4 linked regions of the Homo sapiens genome follow. The protein of the gene in region 4 interacts with the protein of the main gene of each other region in a pairwise test. Each region holds a gene or a part of one and is shown on either strand. Other genes may lie near its edges. The genes, in order: ROR2, ALAS1, KDR and DUSP19.

Region 1 (3,569 bases), on a different chromosome or scaffold from region 4:
CTAATACCTAAAGTCTATTTGTAACCTCCAAATCAATACTTACGGTGCTTTTGTGGCCTTTCACAGACACACGCCCACGGCAGTGAAAAATTTGTGTCCCAGCTGGGGCTAAACAAGGCGATGGTCTGCTCCCTGGTTTCTGCCCTCATATTGTGAACATGTGGCCTTTTCTTGGTCTATTTAGTGCCAAGTTTCTTGCATATTTGGGCTTTTTGTTGGTGATTTTATTGTTTATGATGGCCCCCAGGCACAGCACTGAAGTGGTCTGGTGTTCCTAAGTGCAAGAAAGCTGCGACATGCCTTATGGAGAAAAAAATGTGTGTGAGAGAAGCTTCGTTCAGGCATGAGTTATGAGGCTGTTGGCCATGGGTTCAATGTGAAGGAATCAACAGTACACATTGAATATGGTGTCTTTAAACAGAAACACACATAAACCAAGGTTATGTATTGGTTGGTTGGTGAAAGTATTATGACGAGAGGCTCACAGGAATTTGACTCTGTATTTCCCATAGGAGCAGTGGTTCAGTATTCACTAATTCAGTGTTCCCTGTAGCTTTCTAGAAGATAATTACCGCAGATAACAACCTATTTTAGTAGGTGACAAAAATCGAAACCTTCCCTTGGAAGAGTTCATAGCAGAGCCCCCAGGTAGCCCTTCCTTCCAGCCCTCACTGACGCTTGCTCTTTTGTGACCGCTCTCCTTGGCAGGTTACTTTCTGAATTTTCTGGAGCCAGTAAACAATATCACCATTGTCCAAGGCCAGACGGCAATTCTGCACTGCAAGGTGGCAGGAAACCCACCCCCTAACGTGCGGTGGCTAAAGAATGATGCCCCGGTGGTGCAGGAGCCGCGGCGGATCATCATCCGGAAGACAGAATATGGTTCACGACTGCGAATCCAGGACCTGGACACGACAGACACTGGCTACTACCAGTGCGTGGCCACCAACGGGATGAAGACCATTACCGCCACTGGCGTCCTGTTTGTGCGGCTGGGTGAGTTGGACAGTGAAATTGTGTGGGTTAGCAGATATGAAGGTTCCCAGCCACCGAGCAAGAGGTCCAGTTGCTATTTGAAACTGAACACACACCAGTCAGCACGAGGGGAGAGCAATGAAACCGTTCCCTAGGGCCTTCCCCATGTGCCCCAGGGCCCAGCTTGACCTGTTACCCATTTACTAGTAATAAGAGAAAATAGGGCGAGGCACGGTGGCTCACGCCTGTAATTCCAGCACTTTGGGAGGCCGAGGTGGGCGGATCACCTGAGGTCAGGAGTTTGAGATCAGCCTAGCCAACATGGTAGTAGTTGGCCAGTTTAGTAGAAACTCCATCTCTACTAAAAATACAAAATTAGCCTGGCATGGTGGCGGGCGCCTGTAATCCCAGCTACTCAGGAGGCTGAGGCAGGAGAATCGCTTGAACCTGGGAGGTGGAGGTTGCAGTGAGCCGAGATCACGCCATTGCATTCCAGCATGGGTGACAAGAGTGAAACTCTGTCTCAAAAAAAAAAAAAAAAAAAAAAAAGAGAACAAAAAGAAAATAGGTGCAGATGGAGAGGTTTATGGACCTGGAGCCCAGAAGACAATCCCAGGCACACACGAGGAGCTGAGGTGTTTAGCAGGAAGGCTGTTTGTTAGGAGGTCAGGTGTCAGTGGGAGAGTGGCCACACTGCAGGACGGCTAGGTAGGGCCCGAGGCTGACCTGGCTGGGGTGGGGAGAGAGCTGAGTGCGATGACCAGAGATTCTGAGTCTCTGTGCTCGTCACACCTGGTGAAGGAATTAAGTGGCAGGAAGGACTGTGTCCCCCTTCATCCCACCTGTGAAAAACTCCCAGGCAGCAAACGCCCCGGCCCTGCCACCGAAGCCCACGCCATCCGATCATAAGTAGTAAAACAGATTTTGTGTGTAAAGACTAGATGAGAAGAGAGAGAGTAAGGACAGCAAAAACTCCAAAAACAAAGATATCCTCAGTGACAAAGCACCCCTTCCCTTGTGTGTGGTTTCCAGCCTTGCTGACGTAATCACGAGTGGAGCCTGAGGCCCGAGGACAGCTGCCCACCAGTGAGCCCGCTGGCTTCAGCCTGTTTGCCACTGGCCTGATTTGAAGAAGGTTGTATTCCAAATCATGGAGTATTAATAACTTGTCTTTTTGTTTCCTCTTTTTAGGTCCAACGCACAGCCCAAATCATAACTTTCAGTAAGTATCTGTTTTCCCCAAGCCGTGTTCTGCTGCTCTGAGGGTTTTTGTTATGTAGGAATCCGGGGTTTAAATCCTGCCAGCTCATGTCTTTGCCGAATTTGCTAGAAGTTGGCTGGGCTTCACACAGGGGTGGCCACGTGCTTGCTTAGGGTTGGGAAACATTTACATTTTTCATGTTTCTTGTACAGAAAAAAAGTCAGAAAAACAAAAATGGTTAATTTCTTTCTGTGATTGTGACCTTACACAGGGCTACTGAGAGGAGTATAAATATACAGGCCAGGTTGCCTGGGCACCAGGAAGGATACCGGCTCATTAGGACATTGGGAAACAGGGACGTAATTCACTCTGAAATCCCAGCACTACCAGCTGCAGTTAATAAATGTGTGCCCCTGAGCCTTGGGCCACCCCGTGGCAGTGGGTGGGAGTCTCAACCCCACCTTGCAGATGAGGAGACCGAGGCTCACAGCCAGGCTCACACTCCTTCACGAGCTGCTGACAGCAGTGGCTTTGAACTCAGGCCTCTGGTTTCCCAGTACGAGGTTATTCCACTGTGGCCAGGCTGTCTTGGGAGAGTCCCCTCTGAACTGCCCACACTCTCCCATCGTGTACCCAGAGGAGTGCTCATTCCATTGCCGGTGTTTGAGATGAGCAGTGACTGTCCGGGTTTCCTGCATTTCCTCCTCAGACATATTGGAGAGCAGTGCTTCACTTTGAGATGTTCTGAACAATAGCATGAACACTATATGGTTGGTAAAGTGTGCAGTGTTGGCTGATTTCTGTTTCCCTGGGCCTTGTACCCATTACCCACCCATGATGTGCTGCAACACCACGTTGGGAGGCTGGGCAGGGCAGCGACCTGTCTCAGCAGACATCAGCAGCTTGCTTGCAGAGGGCAGATTTTTTTCCCCCCCCAAATAGACAGGCCTGGCTTTTCACCCAGACTGGAGTGCAGTGGCACGATCACAGCTTACTGTAGTCTTGTACTCCTGGGCTCAGGCCATCCTCCCCCTTCAGCCTCCCAAGTAGCTGGGACTGCAGGTGCGTGCCACCACACACCCGGATAATTTTTTCTTATTTTTTGTAGAGATGGGGTCTCACTATGCTGTCCAGACTGGTGACAAACTCTTGCCTCGAGCAATCCTCCTGTCTCGCCCTCCCAAATCACTGGGATTGTAGGTGTGTGCCACCACACCTGACCTAGAGGGAAGATATTTGGGAAGATTCTGTGCTGAGCAATAGTGATGGAGCATTTTTCCTTAATAGTCCTTCAGACACAGAGTAAGGAAAGAAGAAATTGCATCATGAGCACAATTATGGGGCTTTGGAAAAAGGCATATAAGTCATTTCAAAAGTTGAACTATTGTTCTCT
Region 2 (3,569 bases), on a different chromosome or scaffold from region 4:
GTGGACCTCATCCACGAAGGTGATTGCTCCAAACTCATGGGCCACATCACACAGCTCTTCCAGTGGGCACACCGCCCCTGAGGAAAGACCAGAGACTGCTCTGAAGAGCTTTTGCCGCTTCAGAAATTTCTGTTTTGGTTAGAGTCAGAACAACGTAAACTTCTATTCTAAGGTATCATTTTCAATATTGGAAAGAAAATGAACTTCCTCTAATTTCTAGGTTACCTGGGGTCCCAGAGCCTAGTAAAAGCCAGAATAGAAAATCCACTTTCACCCAAATCTATTAGAAAAAAGTCCACCAATTACAAATCTTGGCAGAATGCAATACTACACAGCAATAAAAAAAGAATGAGACCATGTCCTTTACAGCAATACGGATGGAGCTAGAGGCCATCCTAAGTGAATTAATACAGGAACGGAAAAACCAAATATCGCTCTCACTTATAAGTGGGAGCTAAACACTGAGAACACATGGACACAAAGAAGGGAACAACAGACACCAGGGACCGACTTGAGGGTGGAGGGTGGGAGGAGGGTGAGATCAAAAACTACCATTGGGTACTATGCTTACTACCTAGGTGATGAAATAATTGGTACACCAACACCCTGTGACACATAATTTACCCATATAATAAACCCGCACATGTACCCACTGAACCTAAAAGTTGGAAGAAGAAAAAAAAAAATCCTGGCAGAAAGGAAAAGAAAATTAAAAAACACAACAGGCCAGGCGCGGTGGCTCACGCCTGTAATCCCAGCACTTTGGGACGCCAAGGTGGGCGGATCACAAGGTCAGGAGATTGAGACCATCCTGACTAACACAGTGAAACCCCGTCTACTAAAAATACAAAAAGTTAGGCCAGGTGCGGTGGCTCACACCTGTAATTCCAGCTCTTTGGGAGGCTGAGGCGGGCAGATCACAAGGTCAGTAGATCGAGACCATCCTAGCTAACATGGTGAAACCCTGTCTCTACTAAAAATACAAAAAATTAGCTGGGCGTGGTGGCAGGCGCCTGTAGTCCCAGCTACTCAGGAGGCTGAGGCAGGAGAATGGCGTGAACCCAGGAAGTGGAGCTTGCAGTGAGCCGAGATCACGCCACTGCACTCCAGCCTGGGTGACAGAGGGAGACTCCGTCTCAAAAAAAAAAAAAAAAAAAATTAGCCAGGCGTGGTGGCAGGTGTCTGTAGTCCCAGCTACTCGGGAGGCTGAGGCAGGAGAATGACGTGAACCCGGGAGGCGGAGCTTGCAGTGAGTCGAGATCGCACCACTGCACTCCTGCCTGGGCAACAGAGCGAGGATCGGTCACAAAAAAAAAAAATTAAAAAACACAACAAAACACCATACTTTTAAAGAGTTCAGGCATAGTTTTTCATCTTAGGTTTCAGAGGAACCTCTATCCACACTTACCATCCATTGAATGGACAGTTTCAAATGCCACAATCTTGGGGACTGAGGGGTCAGATCTTTGCAGCAGTTCTCTGAGGTGGCTGACATCATTGTGGCGGAAGATGTACTTTGGCACTCGGCTGTTTCGAATCCCTTGGATCATGGAGGCATGGTTCCCAGAATCAGAGTAAATCTCACAGCCTAAGACAACAAAAATGCTATTTATTGCCATGTGCATCGAAGACAAATTATTTCCTAGAGAAAGACAACAGACTTTTCCTTGGAAATGATGCTTTGAAAATGCCTAGTAGGAAAAAGACACTGTGTGCCAGTTTCTTCCTGGCAAAATAACTAGTTAGTGCTTCCCTTGTGAGAAGGCCCAAAGGTGTAGAATAACCTTGTGGCAGGCCATTAATCTGCTCTTAAATCTGACTGCCTCACTCCAAACTCAATCAAGAGCTAACTAAATGATTAAGAGACTTCTCCAAAGGATCATCTTAGAATACAAAACATATTTGAGGCAATTAGCTCAAGGATGAGACGTTTCAAGTTTGAATTTTCACTGGTATCACGTTCTCCTGGAACCCATAATGTACAGTCAGCATTTCATGCTTGACCCCAGAACAAATGCCCAGATAGGATTATGATTTTCAATTGAGAGGTTCTGGTAAGGCTTCTTTGTTGCCAATATTCTTGTTATTACTAAGAAACCCAAAAAACTCGAAGGCACTCATGCCAGGCTTCCTTACCTGGCATCATCTTAGCCAGGGTGAAGAGGGTTGAGTCATTGGCCACAAAGCACGAGGAAAACAAGAGTGCGGCATCTTTCCCATGGAGGTCTGCCAGCTCCCGCTCTAAGTCCACATGGAATTTACTAGTTCCAGAAATATTTCTAGTACCACCTGCCCCAGCACCATGTTGTTTCAAAGTGTCCCTGTTTAAAAATACAAACAAAACCAGAAAATAAAGCTCATGGTTCTCAACACCATGTGAATTTTTTCCCCTTTCTAGGATCCAGGAGACTGAAACATGTTGATGTAGCAACTCTCTCACTGTGAAACCTGGGGTCAGAAATTTCAACTGATTTCATCTTCAGACTAGGTGGGAGAAGGTGTCAATGCTAGGGTGATGATACCTCCAGGAATCATCAAGAACAAGTGTTCATTTAACAGTCAGTAAGTGCTTGGTATTAGCTGAGTTTCTTTTCTAAGAAACTAAGGTTTATTTTCTGAGAAACATTATTCTTTCCAATAACATGTTAGCTTAAGAAAAAGCAAACTCTAGAGGGACATCCTGGATGGTGGTTACCCTCTGCAAGCCAGTCATGTAATGTTTGGATATATCACTATCATTAAACCTCAAACCGGGACCCTCTTTAGCAAGCCTTTGGAGAATCTGGCCAGCAACTCTCTCCAGCATCCCTAGGATGGTGAGCCTCCTGAAGGACGAGTGATGGGATCTACCATCCTTTTTAACATGTCTTTTGGAGTAGCTTTTTCTCTAGCGCTGCTAGATTCGTATTTCTCCACTCACAGCCACAACCAAGGATGTCTCTGTGAAAGACTGCCTGGTGTTAAAGGCACACTCACTTGCAGAGTGATAGAAAGTGGACTGACGTGTGTGGTCATTGAGCCTATAAGCTTGAACCCTCACAAGTTAAGGGGCTCCAGCAGCTACCTGCATATTAGAGTTCCTTTAAAAGTAATCTGTAGATATTTTTCAGAAGCTAAGAATAGTATTTTGCTATGGCACACTTTCAGCTACTGAATGTTCCCTCCATAAAAGATCCAACCCCTATACATCATCATTGGCTTGCCAAATAACAACAGTAATATTTGAAAGCCAAGGGCTACTTACATAACTGCCCCACACACCCGTGGGTGGCGACTCATTCCTAGGTAGTCATTACTGCACCAGACTGACACTTGCTTTTTGGTGATGAGGGAGTCTGAATAGTCATCTGCCATGGGGAAGATGTGTGCTCGCCGGTTCACAGTTTTAAAAACTCGATAGGTGTGGTCATTCTTTTTCTCATCAATTTTTTTCTCAAAGAAACGATCATACTGAAAAGTGGAAACAGCTAAAAATTGAACAAAAGACAGTACAGAATGGTGGTTGTGAAACACAGCTGCATTTTGGTGAAATACAACAAGTCTCAGCTTGGCAACTGAGGGAGATCCTG
Region 3 (3,569 bases), on a different chromosome or scaffold from region 4:
CATGAGGGTGTGTGTGTATGTGTGTGTGTGTGTTTGTGCATGCACATGCATGTGTATATATCTGTGTGTATAAAAATTTTGAAAAAAAACTCCCAATTGAGATTGACTCCTTTCACAAGGTTTATTGACAAGCAGAATATATTTTTATAGATTTCACATTTTAAAAGATTAATCATTATAATTTTTTCAAAATGAAGGATAATATTTACTTTAAAATTTAAAGTTAAATCTATACACTTTACCGACAAGTTTTACTAATATTTAAAATACTCATGTGCTCTCTCTTTAGGTAAATAATGTAAATTCCATGAAAATAAATGAATGGATCCCAAAGGATCTTTAGATTAACAGGAAACAGCTAACACTTTTGAATTTGGTTATTCAAGAGGACCATTCATGTGAGCATTTTAAGATTCTGAAGACTAGGGATATGATTCTTTCTAAAACCATGTTTAATTGTTTTTGCATTTAGTTTAACATTTAGCAGTCATTGATATCTTCAATGACAAACATTTGAAAAGTCACCACTCCAAAGACTGAGAAGAAAACTGAAGAGATTCTGACTGGGTTCTTGGCTCACGCCTGTAATCCCAGCACTTTGGGAGGCTGAGGCAGGTGGATCACTTGAGGTCAGGAGTTTGAGACCAGCCTGACCAACGTGGCAAAACCCCATCTCTACGAAAAATACAAAAAATTAGCCAGGCATGATGGCACGCACCTGTAGTCCCAGCTATTTCAGAGGCTGAGGCAGGAGAATCATTTGAACCGGGGGGCAGAAGTTGCAGTGAGCTGAGATAGCACCACTGCACTTTAGCCTGGGCAACAAGAGCAAAACTCCGTCTCAAAAAAAAAAAAAAAAAAAGATTTCAAGGCCAATCAAACATTACTCATACAATGTTAACATGCTGCTGGAAACCTAGTCCATTCCTCAGAGATAGAGATGATGTGGTGTGGAGTCATGCTTGAAATCTCAGAGAGATAACATTTCACATTGCTATGCCCAACACATCCCATCAAGCATTCTCAGAGTGCTTCATAATAGTCAGTCAAAGTGAAGAAAGAGTTAATTAAACCACAGGGGACAAAGGCAGCTAATTCCCTGCAACAGCAGAAGTTTGATTTCCTTCCCAGCTGGAAAGCACAGAAAAGCAGCCAATCTAGCCCACCACATGCCATAGCCATTATCTTATGAGGCCAGGGCTCACTTCCTGGCTCCATCCATTGCTGAAGAGAATGGGGTCAGAAGACTAGGGAAGTAAGGTGGCGACCAGAGGGGACATTAAACACCTATCCATAGAGAATACTTCAGTGTTTCCTTTCCCATTGTTTAACTTCATGGCCAAAATCTTGGACAGCCCAACTCCTAGAACTTTAAGCTTAGACAGGAAGCAGAATTTAATGGTATACCCAAAGACAGGCAGTGTACCAATAAACAGTGCTAGGGATTGCCACTTCTTAATATTGCCTACCTTTCATCCACATGTTATGAAATATTACATAACTTGCTTACAGAGCAAGCCTTTGGAAGCTAAATTAACCCTTTGACGTAAGACTAAACCTATTTAGTAAATCAATTCTATTTCGGTATCTCAAAAAAAGGAAATAAACAAAAGAAACCCAAACCACCACCCAGCCTCTCAAAATAAAATATTTACTGAAACTCATGAAATGAATTTTCACATGTCTCCAAGTTTCCTGACTTAGGAAGAAGTAAATAATGAGATATGGGGGATGTTCATCTTGTAGTATTTCTAGACAGGCTGAAAGCAGGAAATCCTTGCAATCTTCTGACCGAGCTGCATCTCTCAAGACTGCCAGGTCAAAAGGAGCCAGAAATTCTCCAAGATGTGAGCCTTGTCTCTTTCAAATCTTGTGGAGGGAAGGAGGAGGGCACAGAATTCTATCTTTGACAGTGCTTACTCTGGGCAAAGATATTTCTCAAACATTGTGAATCCAGTGGCATAGGTTATTTTGATGTGGTCTCCACTTTTTCATTGCACTGACCATATTACACTACTGAAATGTAAGCAGAGATATGCAAGTGTGTTTCCCAAAGCTGATGAAATTCTTGCCCTGTAAAAGCTGCTTCTGGGAAAAAAGTCTAAGTCATCTTCACCTGTCTCAAATACTCTGGGATGTAAAAAGGCATATACGTAAATACATAAAATGTCTGTTTATCTTCACTGAAAAGAAAAATATTTGGTACATCCAACCAAACTATGATGCAGCCCTTACATTCCTTAAATTTATATCATAGGGATCTCATTAGTTAAGTTAGGTTTTCACAGAAAAGATAAGATAGTGTAAGATTTTTGAAACACAAAAGAATGCATAACTCATTATAAATGCAGAATATGTGTGACATTTATTTTATACTATATGGATGTTAAGTCAGCCTTCATAATATCAATCCCAAACTGCACATCCTAGAAAGATACAGCATATCATCCAAGATCTCAGACCAAACAAGCAAAGGAAAGAAACATTGTCCTGAAAAGAGTCTGAAGCAATGTCTTTATTTGCACATGAGTATGGGAATTGTTTTTTATGAAATACTAGTAAGAAAAAAAGGTTCCTATGTGCAAAAAACTCCAGAGCCCTTGGCAAAAAATGCTTTCCTATGCATTCTTGGGAAAATCTCCTACTCTGCTGTAGATAACTTATCTCTCCACAGAAATTTCTCCATAATTCACCCCCAAATCTTCCTCGATTTCAAGAATTTTAGGTTTTCTTCTCAAACATAGGAAGACTTTTTATAAGTCTCAATGGCCAACAGTGAACACAGATTTACCTTGGAAACAAAGATCAGACCCAAACTAACTGGGCAAAAAAGAGGTAACACGGCCCAAGCTCCAGAATCAATGAGTCTTATTTCTCAGAGAAAGCCTCAGGAGAGAAGAATTGTGTGTATTCCTCTTGGCAAACAGCCTTTAGAGCAAGCCCTTTGTTGTACTCAATTCTTCTTTGAGCCTATTGTCTTTTATAACTGGTAAAGAGACGTGGGAAATGAATTTTATTTCACCACTTACCTTGAACATAGACATAAATGACCGAGGCCAAGTCAGTTTCCCGGTAGAAGCACTTGTAGGCTCCAGTGTCATTTCCGATCACTTTTGGAATTGTGAGTGTCTTACAGAAGAGGCCATCGCTGCACTCAGTCACCTCCACCCTTTGCTCACTGCCACTCTGATTATTGGGCCAAAGCCAGTCCAAGTCCCTCTGTCCCCTGAAAAATTAATTTCAGGGAGGTATTAATATGAAGTGCCAGACTGTGAGGCTATTTCTAAGAAAAGAGAAAATTTGGTTTTGAAACTTAAATAAACTCTTCAACAGACACAGTCAGTCTTCTACCGGCCAGGCATGGTGGCTCATGCCTATAATCCCAGCACTTTGGGAGGCCAAGGCGGATGGATCACCTGAGGCCAGGAGTTCGAGACCAGGCTGGGCAACATGGTAAAACCCTGTCTCTACTAAAAATACAAAAATGAGCCAGGTGTGGTGGCGCATGCCTGTAATCCCAGCTACTCAGGAGGCTGAGGCATGAGAATTGCTTGAACCCGGGAGGTGGA
Region 4 (3,569 bases):
AATGGCCAATATTAGGCTTTGAATTAAAAAACCTCTCCCTTGGCCAGGTGCAGTGGCTCATGCCTGTAATCCTAGCACTTTGGGAGGCTGAGGCAGGTGGTCTGCCTGAGCTCAGGAGTTCAAGACCAGCCTGGGCAACACGGTGAAACCCTGTCTCTACTAAAATACAAAAAATTACCCGGGTGTGGCAGTGTGCTCCTATAGTCCCAACTACCTGGGAGGCTGAGGCAGGAGAATCACTTGAACCCGAGAGGCGGAGGTTGCAGTGAGCCGGAGGTTACAGTGCACCGAGATCACACTACTGCACTCCAGCCTGGCGACAGAGTGAGACTGCATCTCAAAAAAAAAAAAAACAAAAAAAAAAAACACAAAAAACAAAAAACAAAAAAAACCTCTTCCTTTGCTTCCATCCAAATACAGTCGTGCATCATTTAACAATGGTGATGCATTCTGAGAAATGTGTTGTTAGGCAGTTTCTTCGTGGTGTAAACATCACAGAGTGCACTCACACAAACCTAGAATGGTATGGCCTATTGCTCCAAGACTACAAACCTGTTCAGATGTTACTGTACTGACTTGTAGGCAACAGTAACACAATGGTATGTATTTGTGTATCTAAACATACATAAACATAGAAAAGGTATGGTAAAAATACATTATTATAATCTTATGGAACCACCATCATATATGCAGTCCAAACATCATTATGCAGTGCATGACTGTATCTGCTATTAAGTAAAGTTGATGAACAGTAGAATTGAATAGTTTTATATTTTCTGGGTAGTCTAGTAGGAAGGCACGTAGAACAGTGCTGGGCACCTAAGGCATTCAATAAATATTACTAAATGAAAGGAAAGAAGGGAGAGAGGAAGAGAAAATGGGAAGGAGAAAAGATAAAGGGAGAGAAGGTAGGCCAGAGTTCAATTAAACCTGATTGTAATCCTGTCATTGTTAGGTGTTCCAGAAGAGTTATTTCTCTCTGTAAATGCTTCTACTTTCCCATCTACGTATCTTACATAAAGTCTGTAAGAATTATTTGCTGACTAAAAATGATGACATTTCAAGGAATAATTGTTGATAACAGCCAACCTAGAAACTTTGCCTGTCAGAATGTTGACTTCAATAACAAGCCTGAAGTACTATATGACATTGGCTATTGGTCTTCTAACTTCAGAAAACCAACAGACAGTTTCTGATCAGCATTTTCATACAATCTAAGTAAAGCAATACACATTTAGTCCTTAGAGTGCCTTAAAATTTTACTGCTAAAAATGCATAGTTTCACAATAACTATCTCATTCATTAAAATCAAATGCATATTAATCATCATAAATACACTAACAAGTCTAGAGCAGTCTCTGTTTTATAGTCTGAATTAATGTTGAAACTAAACATCTCATTGAAAAAAGAGCAATTAACCAAATAATTGTAGGAAATAATGAAATATTGTTAGAAGGGAAATTTCATAATTGTTTTTTAGAGATTCATTATAAAAATAATAAAGATTGGGTAATGGATCCACACTTTCAAATTTCTGCTTCTGCAGAACTATGGATCAAAACAAAACTCACTTTTCTTTTTGCTTCTTCAATAAATTCAAAACATTCTGGAAAATAAGACAGGATGTTGGTTTCAGGCAGATCCAATATAGAAATGCTCTTATATGTAAAGTCACTGAGGAAAGCATTTTCAACTCCATATGCAACATTAAGAATATGAGTCACCTTAAAGAGAAAGAAAAAAGATGATTGTTTTAAATCCCATGAATTAGGTTACCTAAAAAGAGACTGGGGTGTTGATATCTATAACAAGAAAGGTAAAAAATTTAAATGCGACTCACTTGAATGATAATACTGCTTCAATCCCACACCAGAAGTGCTCCTTCTACTATATGTTTTCTCTCTCTCTCTCTCTCTTTTAACTTATTATTATCATCATGCAGAGACAGGGTCTCTTTCTGTCACCCAGGCTGGAGTGCAATGATGCAATCATAGGCCACTGCAATCTTGAACTCCTAGGCTCAGGTGATCCTCCTGCCTCAGCCTCCCAAGTAGCTGGGACTACAGGCGTGTACCACCACACCCAGCTAATTTTTTTTTTTTTTTTTTTTTTCAGAGAAGAGGGGGGCGGGTCTCACTTTTTTTGCCCAGGCTGGTCTCGAACTCCTGGCCTCAAGTGATGCTCCCACTTCCGCCTCCCACAGTGCTGGCATTACAGGTATAAGCCACCACACCTGGCCTATATATTTTCATAGCCCTGGACTTGCCCTATTATAGCTCATGCCATTTAGAGATTGTTTTTCTCTTTCACTGCACTAGAAACTCCATGAGGGTAGGGACCATGTTTAACTTAGTGTTATAAGCGAATGAGCAGTGAGTTTAGCAGAAAATGCTTAAAATCTTTGTTGAATTAATCTGTGAATATCCATATAAAAACTTAAATAGGAGAAGTGTATCAGTGGTATACAACTTCCCTTTCAAGAATTATTTCCCTATTTTCCTTCATATTCTTTACTTTATAAAATGGTTCTCCAGGATGACTGCACATTAGAGTCACCTGATGAACTCTTAAAAACTATCAATAACACAGGGTCTCATACCCAGAGATTCTGATGAACCAATCTGGCTGAAAAGTAAGGGGAGGTGTGGTTGTAAAATATTTTCTTTCAGATGGTACACTTGAGCAACCTCCTCCTCTTGCATCTATGTATTTGAGCCCCTTTTCCTAGAGTCCACCAACCATGTGGAAGAAAGCCAGGCAGACAGTCCATTAAGATAATCCAAAGGCTGAGAATCACTTGAACCCAGGAGGTAAAGGTTGCAGTGAGCCACGATCATGCCACTGCACTCCAGCCTGAGCAAATGAGCGAGACTCTGCCTCAAAAAAAAAAAAAAAAAAAAAAAAAAAAAAAAAAAACCTAACAACCTTGTCCACATCTGTACTTCCCCTCTGCCTTCTGATTACAATGAAGGATGTGCTCGTGCATCTTCGATAAGGCTCATTCCAGAACCTGTGCTTGGAGTCACAGTGCTTCCTACTTTCTTGGCATCTCCCTATAGTCATAATTCTTGCTTTTCTGTATCTTCAATTCCTTCTTCTACCATCAGCCTTAAAACATGCTCAAAGCTCTCCCCTCCCCCTCCTCACCTATGGCTCCTCTCTCTCTTTTTTTTTTTCCCTTTGCCATCACTTCCTCACTTCTCAATCTTTTGCAATATGGCTTTGGCCTCCAATTCAAATGAAACTGTTTCCACCAAACGCACTAACAACCTCTCTGTCACCAAGTCCCATGGATATAATTTAGTCCTAATCGTACTTAAACTTTTACAGCATCTGACATTGCTGACTCTCTCCTCCTTAAAACACTATTCTCTTTAGTTTCCATGACACCATCTTTTTGTTTTACCTTCTTTGGGCCTCTTTTAGATCCTCCTTTCCCACTGCGGACTCTTCTTTGTTTGATCATTCCATATAGGGTGATATTCCTCAATTTATCAGTTCTGTGATAAGATTCTGTCATAGGCCCTCTTCTCTCTTACTTTACACTTTTCCCCAGGCAGCTTCATCTA

What was found.
Region 1: the proteins of DUSP19 (region 4) and ROR2 interact in a two-hybrid assay, tested with the Homo sapiens proteins (one study listed by BioGRID and IntAct).
Region 2: the proteins of DUSP19 (region 4) and ALAS1 interact in a two-hybrid assay, tested with the Homo sapiens proteins (3 studies listed by BioGRID and IntAct).
Region 3: the proteins of DUSP19 (region 4) and KDR interact in a two-hybrid assay, tested with the Homo sapiens proteins (one study listed by BioGRID and IntAct).

What each region holds. Positions count from the first base shown.
Region 1 is NC_000009.12:91,754,699-91,758,267, reverse strand, and holds part of ROR2 (tyrosine-protein kinase transmembrane receptor ROR2 isoform 1 precursor), read left to right. Parts: intron 1-708; coding exon 709-996; intron 997-2,166; coding exon 2,167-2,197; intron 2,198-3,569. UniProt on the Homo sapiens protein: Tyrosine-protein kinase receptor which may be involved in the early formation of the chondrocytes. It seems to be required for cartilage and growth plate development. Phosphorylates YWHAB, leading to induction of osteogenesis and bone formation.
Region 2 is NC_000003.12:52,204,591-52,208,159, reverse strand, and holds part of ALAS1 (5-aminolevulinate synthase, non-specific, mitochondrial isoform 1 precursor), read right to left. Parts: intron 3,468-3,569; coding exon 3,245-3,467; intron 2,322-3,244; coding exon 2,137-2,321; intron 1,589-2,136; coding exon 1,409-1,588; intron 78-1,408; coding exon 1-77.
Region 3 is NC_000004.12:55,115,575-55,119,143, forward strand, and holds part of KDR (vascular endothelial growth factor receptor 2 precursor), read right to left. Parts: intron 3,227-3,569; coding exon 3,030-3,226; intron 1-3,029. UniProt on the Homo sapiens protein: Tyrosine-protein kinase that acts as a cell-surface receptor for VEGFA, VEGFC and VEGFD. Plays an essential role in the regulation of angiogenesis, vascular development, vascular permeability, and embryonic hematopoiesis.
Region 4 is NC_000002.12:183,085,195-183,088,763, reverse strand, and holds part of DUSP19 (dual specificity protein phosphatase 19), read right to left. Parts: intron 1,725-3,569; coding exon 1,572-1,724; intron 1-1,571.